Regions from separate parts of the Homo sapiens genome. Here region 1 is linked to region 2. Evidence: fine-mapped expression QTL. A gene starts in region 2. The other region holds a variant in brackets. All regions are shown on one strand. Distances are from middle to middle.

Region 1 (10,990 bases), 350 kb before region 2:
ACACCACCCTACCTCCTAGACCCTGCCCCTTTCAGTCTCTGGATTAGGGTTGGAGAGAGGGTCATGGCACAAAGACCTGACTCATCACCATGGTGGTTAGAAGTTAGTTCAAGACAGATTTGAGGCTCAAGGGTGCGATTAGGACCAAGGACACTCCGAGATGCTGCACGCCAATGGGCAGGCACCCAGCACACTCTGCAGGGCCTAGAGCTGCTGCCATGGCAGCTCTGCCAAGGGCCAGGCTGGGCCACCCTTCAAAGCTTCATAGCCAAGGAGGTGCCATCTGCTTCCTAGAATCCACAGACATTGTGTTTTTGTGGAAATCTCTCCTCCCTCCCTGCCACCCGCCCCAGCACCTCAGCCTTCTGCAAAGCCCCAGTGGAATGCAGAAGCAGAGGTCACCTGCTTCCCTCCCCATCTCCAGCCTGGTCATGCCTGACCTGCTTCTCCAGGGAATGAATCTTGCAGCCATCTTCTCCCCTGCCCCATCCTCCACAGCCCTCTCTTTTCAAGGGCCTTGGTGTGGCCTTCCCAGTGAAGCTTGTCTCCTCTCATCCATCACTTCCCTTTGGACCCAGAGAAGGTGCAATCCCCTGTCCGCTCTCAGGAGACCCTGGTCTCACACATCTAATTCCATCACATCCTCAACCTCATCCCTCTCTGCTATCCTGGAAGAGAGCCACAGCAGCTTCACCACAGCCCTTGCTGACTTTTCCCAACTGCCAGTGCACCCTTTACCACCTCCCTAACCCCCAACAGTTCTCTTCTTCCTGCATTGGGTGGGCCTTGGGTTGGACTTCAATTGGAACTATGGTTAATGGTATCAGGAGCGTAGGGTTACTGGTGTCACTACTGCAATTTTCTTCTCTCTGGTTCAACCTCTGCCTGACTTCTGGCATACAGAGTGCTGTCCACTCAGGCTGAGAAGTGAGGGCGGACATGGAGGCCTGGCCATGTTTGGAGAGATGGAGGCAGATGTGGATAAAAATACAGAGCTGACTGAAATTAGAGATAAAGCCTGCCTTCCTCAATGTTTCTGCCATTGGAGTTTCTGGCCCATATGACTGATGTAACCTCACCCACTCTTGCATCATATTAATGGCAGCAACAATCGTGACTGTAACTATTTCTTTTTTTGTTTTTAGTCTTTAATTTATTTACTGGAGACAGATTCTTGCTTTGTTCCCCAGGCTGGGGTGCAGTGGCACAGTCATAGCTCACTGTAACCTCAAACTTTTGGGCTCAAACAATTCTCCTGCCTCGGCCTTCCAAAGCTCTGGGATTAACAGTTGTGAGCCACCACCCTGGCCTATTCCTATTTTTCTTTTTCTTTTTTTTTTTGAAATGGAGTCTCACTCTGTCGCCCAGGCTGGAGTGCAGTAGCACGATCTCGGCTCACTGCAACATCCACCTCCCTGGTTCAAGCGATCCTCCTGCCTCAGCCTCCCGAGTAGCTGAGATTACAGGCATGCACCACCAAGCCTGGCTAATTTTTGTATTTTTAGTAGAGGCGGGGTTTCGCCATGTTTGCCAGGCTGGTCTCAAACTCCTGACTTCAAGTGATCCATCCGCCCCGGCCCCCCCACCCTAAGTACTGGGATTATAGAAATGAGCCACTGCACCCGTCTGCCTATTCTTATTTTTAACACTGGTTATTGCATACCTGCTCTGGCCCAGACGCTGTGCTTAGCTCTTTACATATATGATGTTAATCAATGAAACAGTTGACACATTATATAGAATTCCCTCTCCCCAGTAGAATTTTCTGTTACTTTCTCACCAATATGTTGCATCCCCTACTTCAAAATCCCAGGTCCATTCTAATTTCTTCCAAGAAACCAACCAACCCCAGTCTTTCTTTATCCCCTTGGCACTTGTGTACTTGGACAGACATTTAATTGACAATAAGAGCCTGGTGCAGTGGCTCACACCTGTAATTCCAGCACTTTGAGAGGCTGAGGTGGGCAGATCTCGAGCTCAGGAGTTCGAGACCAGCCTGGGCGACATGGCAAAACCCCATCTCTACAAAAAATATGAAAATCAGCTAGGCGTGGTAGCTTGAGCCTGTAATCCCAGCTACTTGAGAGGCTGAGGTGGGAGGATCATTTAAGCTCAGGAAATCAAGGCTGTAGTGAGCCTTGATCATACCACTGTGCTCCAGCCTGAGTGACACAGTGAGACCCTGTGTCAAAAAAAAAAAAAAAAAAGAGAGACAGTAGTACATGGCGATTGTCCCCATCATACCAAGCACCCCCAGGGGCCAGGATGAGGCCTCCTGCTTTCTCTAACGACACCCCACCCTGCACTATCCCCATCATTCACCTGAGGGGCCTGAGATACAAAAGAGCTCAGCACTGCCTAAATAGCTTAGAAAAAGCTGAGCAGAAGCAGCAAACACCTCACAACCCTAGACTGTAAAACAGATCCCAGCCTTGAGGGGCATCTTTTCACCCCATGATGGAAGCCGGACCCAGAGAGGAGAAGAGATCTACTCCAGGTTATACAGTGAGTTAATGGCAAAATTGAGCCCAGAGTCCCGGCCATCTAGGCATTGAAAAAAGTGAAAACTGGAGAGAGAGAAAGACAAATCTCAGTGGCACTGGAGACTCTCAGGGTTCCATGGCCCAGCCCTTCAATTTCCCCTCCTGCCTGCACAGCCCTCCCCTCCCCCTCCTGCCAAGCTGCCAAAGTCTCCATTTAGCTGGAGACAGCGGGCGGATGGGTGGGCGGGCCAGCTCCCAGAGCCTAGGGTAATTGCCTATAATGAAAGCTCCCACAGCCTTTGTTCCTGGGAGCAACTGTACGGTTGAGGTTGTGCTCAGAGGTCTGTGTGCACTTGGGAGCTGGTGCCCAGAGACCTCACCCTTCCTTCCTGCTACCACAACGGGCCCAGCAAGAGACCTGTCCTCCCGGGAGTCACTGTGATTGCAGCTGAGCCTACTCCTCCTTCTTTCCTGACCTACAAGCTGCCTGGACTACGAGCAAGCCCAAAGCCTGTGTGCCCCCTGAGCTACCAGGAATCAGTGACTTCAGCTTCAGAGGGAGCTCTTCCCTGTGTATATGTACATGGCTGTACATACATGCTCATCCTGAGGGCAAGGATCCTGGCAAGACAAAGGACCCAAGGCCTGGAGTTGCTAGGGTATCCCTCTGCCCTATAAGTGATAACGTTCCTGGGAAATGGGTAGACTGTAGAATGTCAAGGGGTGACAAGCATCGGGCATCCCAGTATCCTCTGGGGCTCCCTGCCTGGCGCAGCTTTGCACAGAAGGCCTGCTGCCTGCTGGAGGGCAGGCATGTGCACATACCCATCAGGGAGGGGCTGGCCCTGAGTGGTGCAGGGCACTATCAGAGAAGAAGAACCAAGTTCTAAGAGGGTTTTCTTAGCCCCATGGAGGGGCTTAGAGACCAGGACATCTCTACCATGAGTGACTACCCTTTCTTGGTCCCACAGGTTGCAAACTGACCAGAAACCTGGCCCCCTCTCCCAGGGCAGCTGGCCCCTTGATGGCTATGCTGAGCCCCTCCATGAGACTGAGGAGAGCTTCTCCTGCATGGGTAAGTGATCTGGGGGAGACTTCCTCCTAGGGTCGGGAGGCCACTGTGCTAGAGCTGCCTAGATGGAAGAAGAAGTGACCTAGGCTGGATGGGTCCATCTCTTGACAAGGAGACATCAACCTGTGAATTGCACTTTGAGTTTTCATCATGCTTGACTCAACCCAGGGTTGGTCCATCAAACCCAGGAGCCTTTTAGGGGCAGCATAGGGAAGTGGCCAGGGGATGCCCAGGCTATGGGAGTCACTGCATGTGTGTGTCATGTGAGAAGTCCTGACACAAAGGTAACAAGCTGGGAGTGAGAGCCAGGTTCTGAGTGGTGCCCAGGTTGAAAAATGAAGGTGCTGGAATTAGGGAGGCAGGCCAGAGCCATCTGGCTTGCTGCCTGACAACACTTCCCCTTCCAGGACCACTTTTAACAGGCCACTCCCACACATGTCCCCTTCCCCGTGTCATCCTGTAGTCATGAGATATCACCTGAGGCTCAGGCATGTGAGATTCACCAGGAAGATCCCTAAATTTCAAATACAGCAATATTCAATAAGGGCAGAGACCCTGACAGTCTCAGATGCATCTTCAGGTGCTCAGTGTCTCTGAATAAATGAATGATGCATGGATGAGTGAGTGTCTTGGGTACCATAGGTCAGGCCCTAAGTGGGTCAGATTCAAAACTCAGCAGCACTTACGGACGTGTGCTGATTTTCCTACAACATTAAAAAAGTATCTAGAGGATGGCTATGATTCACACCAGGGGTACATGAGGCTGCACACTGCAGGGAACCAGGTCAATCCTTTACTTTCCCAGACAAAGGGAAACTTGCCTCAACAAAGTAATAAATTTCCTTTTCACAAACCTGAGATTGTCCAGAGGGCTTGTCTCCCAGCTTTGTCTTGGTGCCCTGCTCCAGCGGGCCAAGCTGGGGCTTAGAACACAGCCTGACCCTGAGATCACCGGACAGGATGGTATACTGCTTCTGTCTTCTCTGTGCCCTGCTGGGCAGGTGGCCAGATATCCCTTCTTGGCCTGGGAGCTGGGACCTTTTGAGCCCTTTCTAGGCCTGGTCTATAGCAGTGATCTTGGAGCCACTGCAACCCTAAAAACAGAGCAGCAACACTCATTCTTCCATGACAAGCCTTGTGGAGGAGGGTTATGGGTTAAGGACTCAGCATTTGCAAAGCAAGCCATCTCCTTCCACAATAAATATACATGCAAGAGAACCAGGGCATGGCAGGGGACAAAAGGAAACCAAATTTCTCTGGCACCGAAAAGCCATCAGAATTAGAATGTGGTAACCAGGAAACTATGTGGAGCTCTATTTTTACATTTGCAGTTTTGTTAGTGTAATGGCTTCCTCATGTGGATGCCACATTGTTAGAGCCTAATGATCTCCATGCACCTAACCCAGCGCTCGTTCACGATTATTATCCGATGAGTTGATGAGAGGTCTTTTACTTTTAACGTCTGTTGCAGACTAGCATTAGGAATCCCCCAGGCTTGTCAGCTGGAAGACCACCCTCACTGGTTAGATGTGAAACTGTCTGCTAGATCACGGTTGGGTACCTCTG[G/A]GGGGACAGAGTGCCGGGGAACATTTGGAGGAGGGTTTTACCAGAAAAGTGAGAAACACTGGCTTTCTCCAAGGCTCCTAGGGAAGAGGAGCAGGGTTCACTGCACTGCCTCTGCTCTGGTGCTAGCTAGTTGTCATGGTGACCCATCTCTGCCGAGGATACGCCGAGCTCTTTGATGGGTTGGATGGGGAGAGAGATTTCGGATTTGCCTGCCTTGTGGAAGAGCCTGCGCTCTTCTGAGCTTGAAGAAAACAGAGAAGAGAGGAAGAGAGGAGGCAACTGAAGGATTTCATTTTATGCCTTGCCCTCTCACTCCCAAAGTCACTTGGGGCATGACATGACTCATTCATTCATGTATTCTTTCATTCAATCTACAAACCATCAGTGAGTGTTTGCCTTGTGCTGAACACTGTGCTTGACACTGGGGTAAAAGACAAATAAGACTTTGACCTGCCTTCAAGATGTTCACAGCCCAGGGATTCACTCCAGTGAGACTTATCTAGAGAATTTGTTGGGATCCCAGAAGCTGTGCCCAGTGACCTGCCCCTATAGGGGTTGACAAGGCAGCCAGTCAGTCCTGCCTCCCTCGCTAGGCCCCATGGCATAAGGAGGGCACTGAGCTTATTATCCCATTTATAGAAGGATAATTGGGTGCTTTGGAGAGTACTCCATCAAATATTTATATAATTCACAGAATCCAGCATAGTTATTTGACAGTTATTGATCATGTTATTTCCATATCAATTTGTAGATGGCTGGGGGTTTGGGGGCTTTTTTTTGAAGCTCATGTATCTTCCCTTCCTGACCATGAACTCATCTTGCCCCCCATCACCTAGCACAGTGCCTGGCGGTCAGGGTTTGGTGAAGGTATGATTTGAATGAATGAGTAAGGAATCCAATGTAAGTGGTTGTAGAGCTCTAAAATTTGTCCTCTATCAGCCTGTTTCTTCTCTACCAGCTGAGAAAGACCAACCAGTCTTTCTCTGCTCCTTTCCCAATGTGCTTCTCTCTGTCTTCCAAGCTCACTGAATGGGTTTGGGGGGTGAGTGCAGAGTCTTTGAGCGGAGCAGGAGAAGGCCAAAGAGCTTTCTCAGCCTTGTGCCACTTTCTTAATCTGCTTGGACTCTGGGCATAGAGTCCAAACAAGGCTTTCTAGTATTTATATAGCAGGAGAATTTCCCATGATGACTTGCCTCCAACCTGGGGCACTGGGGATGTTCTTCATATATCCTGAAGGCCATCCACCAGCAGCTGCTCCTTCTGCCTCTGCCCTGGGGCAAGTGTGGAAATGCCCAGCCCACTGATGTTTGTACATGTGCCCTGACCCTCCCTGGCCCATCTGATTCTGTTGGTGACAGCCCAGCACTGGTCCCATCTGCTGACTCTCCCTTTGGTTGCAGTCAGCACTGGGTAGTGTATAGACCACCATCAGATCTTAATTTGGACAGCCAAGAGAAGCCAAGGCTGACGTTACCGCGTGCCCACATGTGTGAGGCTGTGTGCAGGAGGACTGGGAAAGGTTGCCCCAAGGCTTATGCAGATTCTTTAATGACTTCCACTTTGTGGCATGTTTGAATGAGCACTAAGTGGACCCACAATGAAGGGATCTTTTTCTCATCATAGTACGTGTTATCAGGAAAAAGCCAGAGCCTCCTCCCTGCCTCCTTCTCACACGAGGGTTGATATATAGAGAGAATGGGTGGGGCAGTGTGGAGTTTGGCCTCATACTAGGGCTGTTTTGCTTTTCTTCCTCTTTCTTCTCCCTTGTTGAGCTGGCTCCATCTTTAAGCCACAGTGAAGTTTTTCATGCCTTATGGATTTGAAATAGAGCAGGAATAGAGTATTCATTCTAAGAGAACTTGCAAAGCTAGTGTGCCTGGGGCAGGAGCAAGGAATGGTAACTACTCTCTGGGAGAGAAGTTTGTTCTGGGGGTTTCAAACCAAATCCAAGTATTCCTGGACTACAAATGACTTGCATCAAAGAACATAGGAAGTCAAAGCTCTAACAAACTTTATAGATCTCCCAAATTTGGCCTCCTTTTCAATGAGGGAGAGATGAGACTCAGAGAAGAGAAGTGACTTGCTCAGGACTGCATAGGAAGTTAGCAGGTGAACTAAACCAGGACCACTGCTTTCTGACTCCTTAAACACTAAAAAGAACTAAATGGTAATAATGACTATCACTTATTGAATACCCTACTATGTGCAGGGCATAGTGCCAAGTGCTTTACATAAAGTCCTTCATGAATACCTTATATAATCCTTTGAAGGTGTTATTATTACTCTGTGTTATGGATAGGAAACTCAGGCTCAGAAGGGTTATATAAAACCTGTCTGAGGACATCCAGCTAGGAGGCTGTGCCAGGATTCCATCCCAGGCTTGTCAAAAGGCCACACTCTTCTCTTACTCCCTGCCTTCCCAACTGCCGCCAGTACTCACTCAGTCGCACACTGTCCAAGCTCAACTCAGTCTCCCTTAGCCTCTGCCAAGCAATGAGGAAGGAAATGGGATCAGTGAGCCACAGTCCCTGCTCACATCTCCCTCAATCTGAGCAGGTCCCAGGATGCCACTGGCATCCCTGTCACTCCAAACCTATGTCATTTCATGCTGAGTTCACACTGCTGTGTTCTTTGCCCTCTGGGGACCTCCAGGCCAAGATGAGCCTTATGTCCCAGTCATCTGTGGAGAGAAGACATGCAGACAATTGACTAGAAAGTAGAAACAGTTCAGGGGCAGATGATATTAGCCGTGTTCTCAGAGCTTGAGCAGGTTGGTGCTGTTGTGGGGCAGAGGTGGCTTGGGAGTGCGAGGGTCTCTGGAGACTCTGTTGGATAAACAAAGCAGCAATCTAGGACCTGGTAGGCTTCCAGGAACTGGGACGGGAGGTCATAATAGCACTTGTAGCAGCAGCCGACACTTACCGTGGCTTACTGTGAACCAGGCATTGTTATAAGCACCTTTAATCCTTCTAACAACTGCATGAGGTTTGGAATCTAACTCCCTACTTGCCTTGCATCACAGCTTCCTCACTTGCTAGCTATGCAGCCTTGGGGAACTTATTTAGTCTGTCTGTGCCCCTGTGTCCTTGGTTGTAACCAGGGATGATAACAGTGCTTTCCTCATAGGGTTTTGTGAGAATTAAATGCATGGATATTGGTAAAGCGCTTAGAAGAATGGCTGATACATAAGAACTGCTCAATATGTGTTTGGTGTTATTTGTTATTGAGGCAAGTGATGTTATTATCACACCCACTTTGCAGATGAGGAAACTGGGATAGACAGGTTAAGTGGCTTGCCCAAGGTGGTCTAGCCAGGATTTGAACCCATGCAGCTGGTCTTCAGAGGTCATGCTCTTAACCATACGTTCTATGACCTCACTGGAGGGGAAGATGACTCAAGTCTGGGAGTTCTCCCAGGGAGGCCAGGAGAGGCAGTGGGATCACCAGCCTGGCTCTGGGAGGGGCTATGAAGGAAGAGGCCAGATAAGTAAGGTCATCCGAGGTACCTGCTGGAGGGGTTTGAAATAGAAACTGTAGGAGTCTGGATGCTATTTCTTTAGAGGAGTACAGGAGGAGGGAGGAGATTGACTTTTCAAGACAATATTTGGCTGGGAAGGGGATTTATCTCAAGGCAGTGGATTTGACCCAATGTTAGCCATTTCAGTGGAGTGGCAAGAATAGCAGAAGCTGGTCAGCTTGGAGCCTCTTTTCCCCGTGGCTACCTTGGACTCAGGCCCTCCCACTCTAAAAGGTGTGTGAGTGATTCTACGTGGTTTTTGCAACTATGAGTGCTCCACATATAGTACAAATCCCTTGCTCTCCAGATCCTGATTGTGGTCCCAGAAATCAAGAAATCTTGGCAAGACCCAGCTTCCCTGTTTCTCGCTGCACCAAGAAAACCAGGACCTCTGCATTGCCCAACTCCAGAGGAAATTCATATCCAATTGACAATTTTTGTTTTGTTTTGTTTTGTTTTTTGTTTTTTTGAGACAGAGTCTCACTCTGTCACCCAGGCTGGAGTGCAGTGGCACGATCTCAGCTCACTGCAAGCTCCGCCTCCTGGGTTGATGCCATTCTCCTACCTAACCCTCCCAAGTAGCTGGGACTACAGACGTCCACCACCACACCTGGCTATCTTTTTTTTTTTTGTATTTTTAGTAGAGACGGGGTTTCACTGTGTTAGCCAGGATGGTTTCAATCTCCTGACCTCGCGATCTGCCCGCCTCAGCCTCCCAAAGTGCCAGGATTACAGGCGTGAGCCATTGCACCCAACCCATTTGCCAATTTTTTATAAAGCACTTACTGTGTTCCAGGTGTTATTCTAGAAGCTTGGAATACATTTGTGGACAAAATAGGCAAAGACTTCTACACTTGTGGGCCCTTTATGATGTAGCCTAGAGCTGTGCAGTGTACAACCTGTGCAGCTGTACGTGATCTACATGGTGGCCCTGGAGAAGCCCCAGCTCTGGAATATGTCTCCCACCCTAAGGAGCAGGAGCAGAGCTTTGGCCTCATGACATTCCTGGGACTATAAGCAACAGCAGTCTGTGGGCCACCCCCCTTCGCCCTGAGTGCTTGAATAGATGAGGAAGGTGATAAACTTTCCCCTGTAGTTTTCCTAGAGAATTACCCCCTATACCCAATACCTACCTGTCCTTGACTTGGCAGCCTCTTAGCAGATTTTTAGAGACTCCACTCTCCAACCTGCAGCGATCTGCTTCAGCTCCTCCTAGGAAATCCCAACCCCTTGTTTAGTTCTCCATGTGTCTATGAGCCATGGACAGGTTCTGGGAAAAAGGACACTGAAGGAGAGGTGGCCTGGTTGACAGGAATCTCTCCAGCTCAGACTGCTCCATACAGCTTTAGAGGTTGTTATCCAGGGAGCTGTGGAGCAGTTACAAGTTTCAGCTATGGGAGGCGGAACTATTTGCTAAACTTCCACCACTGCTGCTCCCTACTTCTCTGGCCAATCCAGGTAAGCCTCACCTCCAGTGCAGCTCTGAAGATCTGGCCCCTCAGATCTTTGCCCCATGCCTGGGCAGAGATTGGCCAGCCCTCCTTATAACTCTGAACTATTGTCTCCCTGGGAAGGCCCAGGGCAGACAGAGAGCCTGCAGAGGGGGCTTTATCTCAAGAAGTGCTGGCTCCATGCCAGTCTTGGCCAAGGCTGAAGTCTCCCTCCAGCACCACTGAATGGGCAGAAACTGGAACACACCATCCCAAGACCCCCCAAACCCCTTTGTAAGAGGATTAGGGTCCCCTGGTGAGAGACTTCCCTCCCCACTATAAGGCTGCGGGCAGGCTTACACAGAAGGAGCTCTGGAGAGAGGCAGTTGAAGAGAGAGGTGACACAGACACAATAGCCAGAGAGATTAAGTGCTGAGAATTACCCCAGCCACAATATTCATCCTTTAAAAGGGCGGAAGGAATAAAAAACTTGCCTTCCTGGGTGGTGGGAGTCCCAGGCTTCAGAGGGAGCTGAAGATAATTAAAGGTCAGGACATAGGAAGGTTCAGCAAGTGTGGAGTCATCCACGTGAGACCAGATGAGCCCAGGGAGGAGGGGAGAGCGGAGAAATGCTCAGTTGTCCCTTCTCTCAAGAAAATCCTTCCAGGAGAAGGAAATGAGAGTGTCCTGTGGTATGAATGACTGAGGTCAGATAAATAAGAGAACTTCCTGGCAGGAGGAAAGCTCAGCCCCAGTGGAAGTGGAAGGAGAACAGCCTGAGGTTCATATAAACACTGGCACAGTCCAGGGGCAAAAGCTGACCTCATGAGCTCACAGCATCCTTCCTGCTGAAGAATCTGAGGTTGCATGCAGGCAGGAGGGAGCACAGAGGTGGCAAGCCCCTTGTGATGACATCAGGCCC
Region 2 (10,990 bases):
ACTGCACCTGGGTAATTTTTGTATTTTTAGTAAAGATGGGGGTTCACCATGTTGGCCAGGCTGGTCTCAAACTCCTGACCTCAGGTGATCCACCCGCCTCGGCCTCCCAAAGTGCTGGGATTATAGGCATGAACCACTGTGCCCAGCCTGGTATCGGTTTTTAAATTTCAAATTTCATTGTTCATTACTAGTAAATAGAAATACAGGCTGGGTGCAGTGGCTCACGCCTGTAATCCTAGCACTTTAGGAGGCTGAGATGGGTGGATCACTTGAGGCCAGGAGTTAGAAAGGCACCCAGCCTGGCCAACATGGTGAAACCCCGTCTTTACTAAAAAATACAAAAATTAGCCAGGCATGGTGGCACATGCCTGTAGTCCCAGCTACTCTGAAGGCTGAGGCACAGGAATTGCTTGAACCCTGGAGGTGTAGATTGCAGTGAGCCGAGATCATGCCCCTGCACTCCAGCCTGGACAACAGAGCAAGACCCTGTCTCAAAAAAAAAAAAAAAAAAAAAGGCCAGGTGCAGTGATTCACACCTGTAATCCCAGCACTTTGGGAGGCAGAGGAAGGTGGATCACCTGAGGTCAGGAGTTCGAGACCAGCCTGGCCAACATGGCGAAACCCCATCTCTACTAAAAATACAAAAATTAGCTGGGCGTGGTGGCACGCACCTGTAATCCCAGCTACTTGGGAGGCTGAGGCAGGAGAATGGCTTGAAGCAGGAGAATGGCTTGAACCTGGGAGGTAGAGGTTGCAGTGAGCCAAGATTGTGCCACTGCACTCCATCTTGGGTGACAGAGCAAGATTCCATCTCTAAAAAAAAAAAAAAAAAAAAAAAGTATTCCCTGATCTGTTAATTACTTTAATTACTGGGAGAGGCATGTAACGTTTCTTACTCTGTTGGTGAATTTGTCCATTTTCCCTTGTGTTCTGTTAATTTTTTTATTTTTTGATACAGGGTCTTGCTCTGTTGCCCAGGCTGGAGTGCAGTGGCATGATCTCGGCTCACTGCAGCCTTGATCTCCTGGGCTCAAGTGATCCTCCTACCTCAGCCTCCCAAGTAACTGGGACCACATGTATGCACCACCATGCCCAGCTAATTTTTGTATTTTTCTTAGAGACAGGGGTTCACCACGTTGGCCAGGCTGGTCTCAAAATCCTGAGTTTAAGCAATCCACCTGCCTCGGCCTCTCAAAGTGCTGGGATTATAGGCATCAGCCATTGCGCTCAGCCAATTTTTATTTTATTTGTTTTGAGACTGTATTATTAGACAGATAATACTCCAACATGTGAGCTAGAACATTAACAAGCAATTTATACCTAGGTATTTGTGAACTATACCTAGGTATTTGTGAATTATACCTAGGTATTTGTGAACTACTTACCATCCCAGGTTTCTGCCTCCTCGATTTGAAGTAATAATATCCTGTCTTACTCTTTCTTTTCCTTTTTTTTTTTTTCAGACAAAGTCTCACTCTGTTGCCCAGGCTGGAGTGCAGTGGCACAATCTCAGCTCACTGCAACCTCCGCCTCCCGGGTTCATGTGATTCTCCTGCCTCAGCCTCCTGAGTAGCTGGGATTACCGCCACCACACCGGGCTAATTTTTATATTTTTAGTAAAGATGGGGTTTCACCATGTTGGCCAGGCTGGTCTCAAACTCCTGATCTCAGGTGATCTGCCCACATCAGCTTCCCAAAGTGCTGGGATTACAGGTGTGAGCCACTGTGCCCGGCCAAGTTTTTTGCTTTTTTTTTTTAAACTACATATTTCCCCATTTATTGGCTTATGAGTTATATACTGTCTTCAATTTATATTACTTAAGTGGTTTCCTTTAAAACTTTAATACAGATACTTAAGATCTCACATTTATCCCTACTCTCCATCTGATAATACAAGGAGCTTAGAATGCTTTAACTTCCTGCAGCCAATTAAGCCGACTGAGTTCCTTTCCTCATGGGGGCCCAGTGTGCAATGGCTGTAAATAGCAGCTTCCTTGGTAGTGTATGCAGCCTGTTTGTTGTATGGGTTGCTCTAAGGGACCTTGGAGACAGTCCTTTCAGATGGATGTTCATGTTTCTGACCTTACACTACCCCAATGTAGGCTCCAAACTGGCATGCGAGGTGCCTTTGGAAAGCCCCAGGGCACTGTGGCCAGGGTTCACATTGGCCAAGTTATGTCCATCCACACCAAGCTGCAGAACAAGGAGCATGTGATTGAGGCCCTGCGCAGGGCCAAGTTCAAGTTTTCTGGCCGCCAGAAGATCCACATCTCAAAGAAATGGGGCTTCACCAAGTTCAATGCCAATTAATTTGAAGACATGGTGGCTGAGAAGCGGCTCATCCCAGATGGGTCAAGTACATTCCCAATCATGGCCCTCTGGACAAGTGGCGGGTCCTGCACTCATGAGGGCTTCCACTGTGCTGCCCCCTCTTAATACTCACCAATAAATTCTACTTTCTGTCCACCTAAAAAAAAAAATGCTTTAACTTCAGTTACCCCTCTCTCTTATGTACTTTTAGTCTGTTATTTTAGTTTTATCCTGATTCCCTCACATAAACATTATTAGTATATTATTAGTGTTGTTTTATACAGTTGTTTAAATTTATCTACTTTTTTTGCTCACTGTTCCTTTTTGCATCTCATTCTTTCCTTCAGTGATTCCTTTCCTTCTTGAAATAATTCCTGGCCTGGCACAGTGGCTCACGCCTGTAATCCCAGCACTTTGGGAGGCCGAGGCAGGCGGATCACCTGAGGTCAGGAATTCGAGACCAGCCTGGCCAACATGGTGAAACCCCGTCTCTACTTAAAATACAAAAATTAGCCAGGCATGGTGGCAGGCGCCTGTAATCCCAGCTACTCAGGAGGCTGGGGCAGGAGAATTGCTTGAACCCGGGAGGCGGGGGTTGCAGTGAGCTGAGATCGCACCATTGCACTCCAGCCTGGGGGACAAGAGCGAGACTTCATCTCAAAAAAAAAAAAAAAAAGAATTCCTTTAGAATTTCTTCGTTAGGAGTCTATGGATGGTAAATACTCTCAATTTTTATCTAAAAATCTGTTTTCCCTTACTTTTTAACAGTAGTTCATTTTTAATTTTATTTATTTTTATAAAGACAGGGTCTCCCTGTGTTGCCCAGGCTGGTCTGGAACTCCTTGGCTAAAGAGATCTTCCTGCCTCAGCCTCCTAAAGTGCTGGGATTATAGGCTTGAGCCACTGCACATGACCAAATAATAGTTTAGTTGGGTATACAATTCCAATTTGACAGTTGGCTTTTTTTTCTCAGTATTTTGAAGATAATGTCTCCAGCTTGTATGTTGCTAATGAGAGGTCTGCCCTTGGTCCAATTTCTTATTTTGAGACGGAGTTTTGCTCTTGTTGCCGAAGCTGGAGTGCAATGGCGTGATCTCGGCTCACCACAACCTCCGCCTCCCAGGTTCAAGTGATTCTCCTGCCTCAGCTTCCGGAGTACCTGGGATTAAAGGCATGCGCCACCATGCCTGGCTAATTTTGTATTTTCAGTAGAGACAGGGTTTCTCCATGTTGGTCAGGCTGGTCTCGAACTCCCAACCTCAGGTGATCCGCCCGCCTTGGCCTCCCAAAGTGCTGGGATTATAGGTGTGAGCCAACATACCTGGCACCTTGGTCCAATTTCTAATTGCCATTCTTTTGTAGATAATCTGTCTCTTTTCTTCCACTGCTGTAAGATCTTTATGTCTTGGTTTTCTTCAATTTAACTAAAACATGTCTATAGGTAGCTTTATTTTTATTTTTGCTAATAATTTATTGTAACTTTTTACTGTTTTTTTTTTTTTTTTTTGAGACAGGGTCTCACTCTGTCATGCAGGCTGGAGTGCAGTGGCGCAATGTTGGCTCACTCCAACCTCTGCCTCCTAGGCTCAAGCAATTCTCCTGCCTCAGCCTCCCGAGTAGCTGAGATTACAGGTGTGTGCCACTACTGCCCGGCTAATTTTTTGTATTTTTAGTAGAGATGGTGTTTCATAATGTTGGCCAGGCTGATCTTGAACTCCTGAGTTCAAATGATTCACCAGCCTCAGCCTCCCAAAGTGCTGGGATTACAGGCATAAGCCACTGCACTCGGCCCTGTAACTTTTAAATCTATAGAATCAGGAATGGAAAATTTGTGGCCATTATTTTGAAATGTCCAACATATGTTGCATTCTAAGCATTCACAAATAAATAATAAATAATGAAAATGAACTGGGGGAGAGGTGGGCTGTGCCCACAGTGTCCCCTTTCTACAATCCTGAATTCTCTGAATTCCTGAATCTCTCCACTGTAAGTTATTACAGGCCATCTACAGGCCAGTTCTGAGGCAAACTAGACAGTGTGGGAGCCATGCAGGGAGGCGGAAGTGGAAATGAGGTTCCTGGTATTCCCAGGAAGAAGTAAGGCTATAAGGGGAAATAATATAATTCCTAAAATCTTTTTTTTTTTTTTTTTTGAGACAGGGTCTTTCTCTGTTGCCCCAGCTGGAGTGCAGTGGTATGATCATGGTTCACTGCAGCCTTGACCTCCTGGGCCCAAGCAATACCCCTACCTCATCCTCTGAGTAGCCAGGACCACAGGTGTGCATCACCACACCCAGCTAATTTTTTAAAATGTTTTTGTAGAGAGGGGGTCTCCCTCTGTTGCGTAGCCTCATCTTGAACTCCTGGGCTCAAGCGATCCTCCTGCCTCAGCTTCCCAAAGTGTTGGGATTACAGGCGTGAGCCACCACACCCAGCCTAAAATCTTTTACCCTTTAGCTAAGGATGACATCCTCTTCCTCTGTCAATATTTAACTAGAAGGATCAGGCTAGGCATCTCTTCGTTGTGCTCCCCAGCATCCTTTTCTTCCCGTATCAAGCGCAGCACGTGGAAGTGTCGTGACCTGTTTTCTTGTGCGTCTGCTAAAATGTGAGTTAGGCTATGAACACCATAGGAAGAGGAATTGTGCCGGACTTATTCAAACTGTACCCCAGGCACTTAGCTTAACAACTGGTGTCTAGCAGATACTCAGCAAAAGTGCATTGCATCGAAGACTGAATAATTTCAAGATAGGAGTATTCAACGTCTAATATGTACCAAGCGCTGTTCTCAATGCTACAGAAAAGCAGGTTTCTAAGGTTTCTGGAGTTAAACAAAAAACCCTGACATTGAACTTACATGGAATATTAAAGTCATTATCTACCATAAGCATTATTTCATGAAATAAAATAATTTCAACTCTACAAAACTAGGAAGCACAGAACGGAATACTATTTCCCTTAATGAAAAACTCCCTACATTGTTCTTTTTAAAAATCTCATTTCCTAGCTGAACGGTAAAAACATCATCATTGATTAGCTCCTATTCATAGAAGGCCCATTGCAACCCACTGGTACAGAAGAGAAACAAAGTATTCAGCGGAGAATACCCTAGCTCAATAAGCGGTACAATACAGTAAGGGAAATAGAAGTGACATGCGATGGACAGCCAGGCCTTAAATTGCGCGGTGCTGATTCCTGTCCCTTAACCCAACAATAGAAAGATAGGCGTGCCTGGAGTTGCTGGGGGACGAGGCTCGATCCAGTGTGAATTCCGTGAAGTTGTGCAGGGTTTCACTGTTTGCTGAGTGTGTTAGACAGGTTACCTGGTAGAGTTCTCACATTACTTCGTGAGATACACAGATATTATGACTCTATTATACTGGTGCAGAAAAAGGCTCGGGAAGATTCATGTTTCTTGTGCGACTTGCCCAAGGTGACACACAGTTCTAACAACTGGCCTATCGCAGGGTGTGAGATCTGGAACTCAGACCTTCCCAGCCAGGGCTCAGTCCACGCCACTGCCTAGATGAGGCAGCAGGAAGGGTCAGCAGAGAAGGGTGCCCCACCGGGACGACTGGAACACCTCAGTAGGATATGGGTGGGCAAACGTGGGCCACACGATCCCACCGGCCTCTTTTGTCCTAAGTCCCGAGGCACGGGTGCAGCTAGAAGAGTGGGCGGTAAAGCGCAGGGAGGGGATGCGGTCGGGAGCAGATTTCGGGGGCGGGGCCCGCGCGGCGGGGGCGGGCCCGCGGCGCTCGGGGCGGGGCTCCCCTCGGGTTCGCGGCCCGGCCGGTGAGCAACGGCTCTGCGGCCATGGCGAGCGGCGAGCATTCCCCCGGCAGCGGCGCGGCCCGGCGGCCGCTGCACTCCGCGCAGGCTGTGGACGTGGCCTCGGCCTCCAACTTCCGGGCCTTTGAGCTGCTGCACTTGCACCTGGACCTGCGGGCTGAGTTCGGGCCTCCAGGGCCCGGCGCAGGGAGCCGGGGGCTGAGCGGCACCGCGGTCCTGGACCTGCGCTGCCTGGAGCCCGAGGGCGCCGCCGAGCTGCGGCTGGACTCGCACCCGTGCCTGGAGGTGACGGCGGCGGCGCTGCGGCGGGAGCGGCCCGGCTCGGAGGAGCCGCCTGCGGAGCCCGTGAGCTTCTACACGCAGCCCTTCTCGCACTATGGCCAGGCCCTGTGCGTGTCCTTCCCGCAGCCCTGCCGCGCCGCCGAGCGCCTCCAGGTGCTGCTCACCTACCGCGTCGGGGAGGGACCCGGGGTGAGTGCGCCCCAGACTGCGCCCGCCGCTGCCTGCCTGCCCTTCCGGCCCCCAGCCGCCCTGCACCCTCACCTACCCCACCCGGGAGGAGGGACAGGGAGGACCCTTCCAGAGCGTCCCTAGAGGGGCCTACTCCCCGCGCGCCGCCTCTAGGCCTCCTCCCCTTGCTTCCTCTTTTCCTCCCGGGCTGCCTGGTTTCCTTCTGGACTTCCTCCAGCCACTGGGCGGTGCATCCTTCACCCTTTCCGTCCTTCCGCGTCTCCTCCCTGGCCCTGGAGGCTTGTCCAGATTGCGCCGCATTCCCGCTCATCGCACACTGCCGTTTCTAACATTTTCCGTGGCTTTCTAGATGACCTGTTGTTCATGCACTTCACTTAGTGCCCTCTTGGACTTTTGGGCCGAGGTACCTGATTATCAGCCACCTTATCTCTGCTTTATGGTGGCTCTAGAATTAGCCAGATGTTGATCTAGCTCTTTGTTCTGTGTTGCCTTCTAGTTCCACGGTTAAAGCTCTTATCTTTGTTTTTGTTTCCTCCTGTGAAGTCCTGGATTTGATTAACGAAAGAATTTGAGTAAAAGTGAGAACTGGAATTAGGGTGCTATAAGCATTATAATAATTTGGCCTTCTCACTGTTGGTTAACTCTTTAATTTTTTTTCGGGACGGGGCAAATATTGGAAATAAGAGGATGGAGTTATGTGGCTTATGTCTGTAAGAGTCAGAAAATCCTTCCTGGAGAGTCCTTAGGCTGTGGCTGCCAGTTATCTCTCAGGTAGAGTTGGTTGCAAGTTTCATAGTAAACTGCTTGCTTACAGTTTAATCTTTTATTTATTTATTTGAGGCAGAGTCTCACTCTCGTCCAGGCTGGAGTGCAGTGGCAAGATCTCGGCTCACTGCAACCTCTGCGTCGTGGGTTCGAGCGATTCTCGTACCTCACCCTCCCTAGTAGCTGGGACTACAGGCGTGCGCCACCACACCCGGCTAATTTTTGTATTGTTTAGTAGAGACAAAATTTCACCATTTTGGTCAGGCTGGTCTCGAACTCCTGACCTCGTGATCCGCCTGCCTCGGCGGCCTCCCAAAGTGCTGGGATTACAGGCGTGAGCCACTGCGCCCGGCCCACAGCTTGGTTTTATACATTAGGGAGACATGATACATCAGTCAGTATATGTAAGAAGTACATTGGTTGGGTCTGAAAAGGTGGGACAACTTGCAGCAAAGGCAGGAAGACTTGAAGCGGCTTCCGGATCACAGATAGGTGATACACAAATGGTTACATTCTTTTGAGTTTCTGATGAGCCTTTCCAAAGGAAGCAAATCAGATATGCATCCATCTCAGTGAGCAGAGTAGTGGCTTTGAATAGAATGGGAGGCAGGTGTGCCCTAAGCGGTTCCCAGGTTGAGTTTTCTTTAGTGATTTTGGGGGCCCAAGAGATTTTCCTTTCACAGCCTGATAACACCACTGCACTCCAGCCTGAGCAACAGAGTGCGACCCTGTTTTAACAACAACAACAAAAAAGCAAAGATGATGAGTAAGCAATTTTGGTGGAGGGGGGATGATGGCTAATATTTAATAAGATGAGCCAGGCACTAGTCTAAGTGCTTGACATAGGTTAAATGAGTTGTCTTTCCATAAGTGGTTAATATGGTGCGTGGTACATGGTAAGTAAGCTGTGTTAGCTCTTACTGCTAACTTTTGTATTTCTTTCTTTTTTTTTTTTTTTTTTTTTTTTTTTTTTTTTTTTGAGAAGGGATCAAAAAGCTCCCTACATTGTTCTTTTTAAAAATCTCGTTTCCAGGCTGGGTGTGGTGGCTCACATCTGTAATCCCAGCACTTTGGGAGGCCAGGGCTGGCAGATCACCTGAGGTCAGGAGTTTGAGACCAGCCTGGCCAACATGGTGAAACCCTACCTCCACTAAAAATACAAAAATTAGCTGGTTGTGGTGGCTCACACCTGTAAACCCAGCTACCTGGGAGCCTGAGGCAGGAGGATCGCTTGAATCTGGGACACAGAGGTTGCAGTGAGCTGAGATCATGCCATTGCATTCCAGCCTGGGTGACACAGCGAGGCTCCATCTAAAAAAAAAAAAAAAAAATACTCATTTCCTAGCTGATCAGTAAAAACATCACTGACTGATGGCATTCAATGATCAGTCAATTGATCAATTCTTATTGACTGGTATAGTGGCACCATCTCAGCTCACTGCAGCCTTGACCTCCCTGGCTCAAGTGATCCTCCCACCTTAGCCTCCTGAGTAGCTGGGGTAGCTGGGACCAACCACAGACCTGCCACCTCCACACTTGGCTAATTTTTGTTATTTTTTGTAGAGATGGGGTTTTGCCATGTTGCCCACGCTGGTCTTGAACTCCTGGGTTCAAGCCATCTGCCCGCTTTGGCATCCCAAAGTGCTGGGACTACAAGCATGAGCCAACATGCCTGGCTTAATTGAGCAGCCAGTTCAGAGAGTTCCCATATACAGTTCAGTACCTCCTACATACACATATACACACAGATTCCCCTCTTGCTACCATTTTGCATTAGTATGACACATTTGTTACAATTAAACAATGCTGATATATTATTAACCAAGATTGAATCATTTTACATTAGTATAATAATATATTTGTTATAATTAATAAACCAGTACCGATACTGGAGTCCATAGTTTTTTCAGATTCCCTTAGTTTTTACTTAATGTCTTTTTCTGTTCCAGGAAGCCATCCAGAATTCCACATTATATTTAGCTGTCATGTATCCTCTTGGGACTGTGACAGTTTCTCAAACTTTCCTTGTTTTTGATATAACTTTGACAGTTTGTTTGTTTTTTGAGACAGGGTCTTGCTCTGTCATCCAGGCCGTAGTGCAGTGAGTGGCACAATCATGGCTCACTGCAGCCTTGATCCCCCTGGTTCAAGTGATCCTCCTGCCTCAGCCCAAGTAGCTGGGACTACAGGCGCATACAACTGCGCCCAGCTAATTTTTTGAATTTATTATTTGTAGAGATGAGGTCTCACTGTGTTATCCAGGCTTGTCTCAAACGCTTGGGCTCAAACAAACAATTCTCCCATCTTGGCCTCCCAAAGAAAGTGCTAGAATTACAGGCATGAGCCACTGCTCCCAGCCAGTTTTTTGTTTTTTATTTTTTTATTTTTATTTTTTCTGTAGAGACAGGGTCCCCCTATGTTGCCCAGGCTGGTCTCAAACTCCTGGCCTCAAGCGATCCTCCTGCCTTGACCTCCCGAAGTGCTGGCATTACAGGTGTGAGCCACTGAGCCCAGCCAACCTTGACAGTTTTGAGGAGTGTTGGCCAGGTATAGCGTAGGATGACCCTGTATTGGAATTTATCTGATGTTTTCTCATGATTAGATTGGGATTATGGGTTTTGAGGGGCAATTCACAGAGGTAAAGTGCCATTTTCTTTCTTTTTTTTTTTTTTTTTTCTTGAAATGGAGTTTCACTCTTGTTACCCAGGCTGGACTGCAGTGGTGTGATCTCGGCTCACTGCAACCTCCGCCTCCCTGGTTCAAGCGATTCTCCTCCCTCAGCCTCCGAAGTAGCTGGGACTATAGGCATATGCCACCACCCTGGTTAATTTTTGTATTTTTAGTAGACACAGGGTTTCACTGTGTTGGCCAGGCTGGTCTTGAACTCCCGACCTCAGGTGATCCACCAGCCTCGGCCTCCCAAAGTGCTGGGATTACAGGTGTGAGCCACTGCGCCCAGCCAAAGTGCCATTTTCATCAGGTATTGAGGGCGCATAGTATCCACATGATTTATGACTGTCAGCGTTAACCTCGGTCCCCTGGCTGAAGCAGTGATTATCAGCTTTCTCCACTGTGAAGTTATTCTCTCATCCCTTTCTATACTGCACTGTACCTGTTATAAGGAGACTAATTAAATTTTTCACACACAAAAACTCAAACCCAGCATCCCAACGTAGCTTCCTTATGCCTCTTAAAATAGGTCTCAGACACTGCTGTGTTCAGAACCCTTCATTAGACTTGCCCAGGCCTGCCTCCCCAACTCTGCATCTGGAGCCTGCATCTGTTTATGCCTCTCCTCATGTTGCTGCTCGTCTCCTTGTGAATGTCTCCTCCCTTCCTTTCCAGCCATCTCAATCCTGCGTGTCTTTGAAGGTCCAGCCAGAAAGTTTTCTTCCCCTATGAAATCATCCTGGAGTAATCGAATCCATTTCTAAATTCTAAATGCTATTTGTTACTGACCTATGCTCCATCCTGCCCCTCTTCCAGGTAAATGAATGGCTGTTTGCTATAGGCAAAAACTGGGTTTTGTGATAAATCATTCAGATTTTACTTTTTTTTTTTTTTTTTTTTTTTTTTTGAGGCAGAGTCTCGCTCTGTCACCCAGGCTGGAGTGCAGTGGCATGATCTCAGCTCACTGCAACATCTGCCTCCTG

The links. PIP is the estimated chance that this variant, and not a neighbour inherited with it, causes the effect.
Region 1: its variant is the best candidate, but not a certain one, in a credible set for the expression of RNPEP in whole blood (INTERVAL, PIP 0.83).

Annotation. Positions count from the first base shown.
Region 1 is chr1:201,625,950-201,636,939 of GRCh38, forward strand. It overlaps NAV1 (neuron navigator 1), which reads left to right. Exons shown (of 34, transcript NM_001389617.1): 4 at 3,455-3,558. It overlaps LOC124904482 (a long non-coding RNA gene), which reads right to left. Exons shown (of 2, transcript XR_007066789.1): 1 at 4,410-10,990. Among named protein-coding and RNA genes, the nearest start is that of MIR5191, 88 kb to the right of the region's middle. RefSeq lists an enhancer at 2,488-2,989. The variant G/A (reference allele first, on the strand shown) is at 5,122.
Region 2 is chr1:201,976,542-201,987,531 of GRCh38, forward strand. RNPEP (arginyl aminopeptidase) reads left to right here and starts at 6,107. Exons shown (of 11, transcript NM_020216.4): 1 at 6,107-6,572. The coding sequence starts at 6,126. SNORA70H (small nucleolar RNA, H/ACA box 70H) reads left to right here and starts at 1,920; the gene lies at 1,920-2,054. It also overlaps the pseudogene RPL10P4. RefSeq lists an enhancer at 5,743-5,802 and silencers at 6,013-6,692, 9,409-9,583.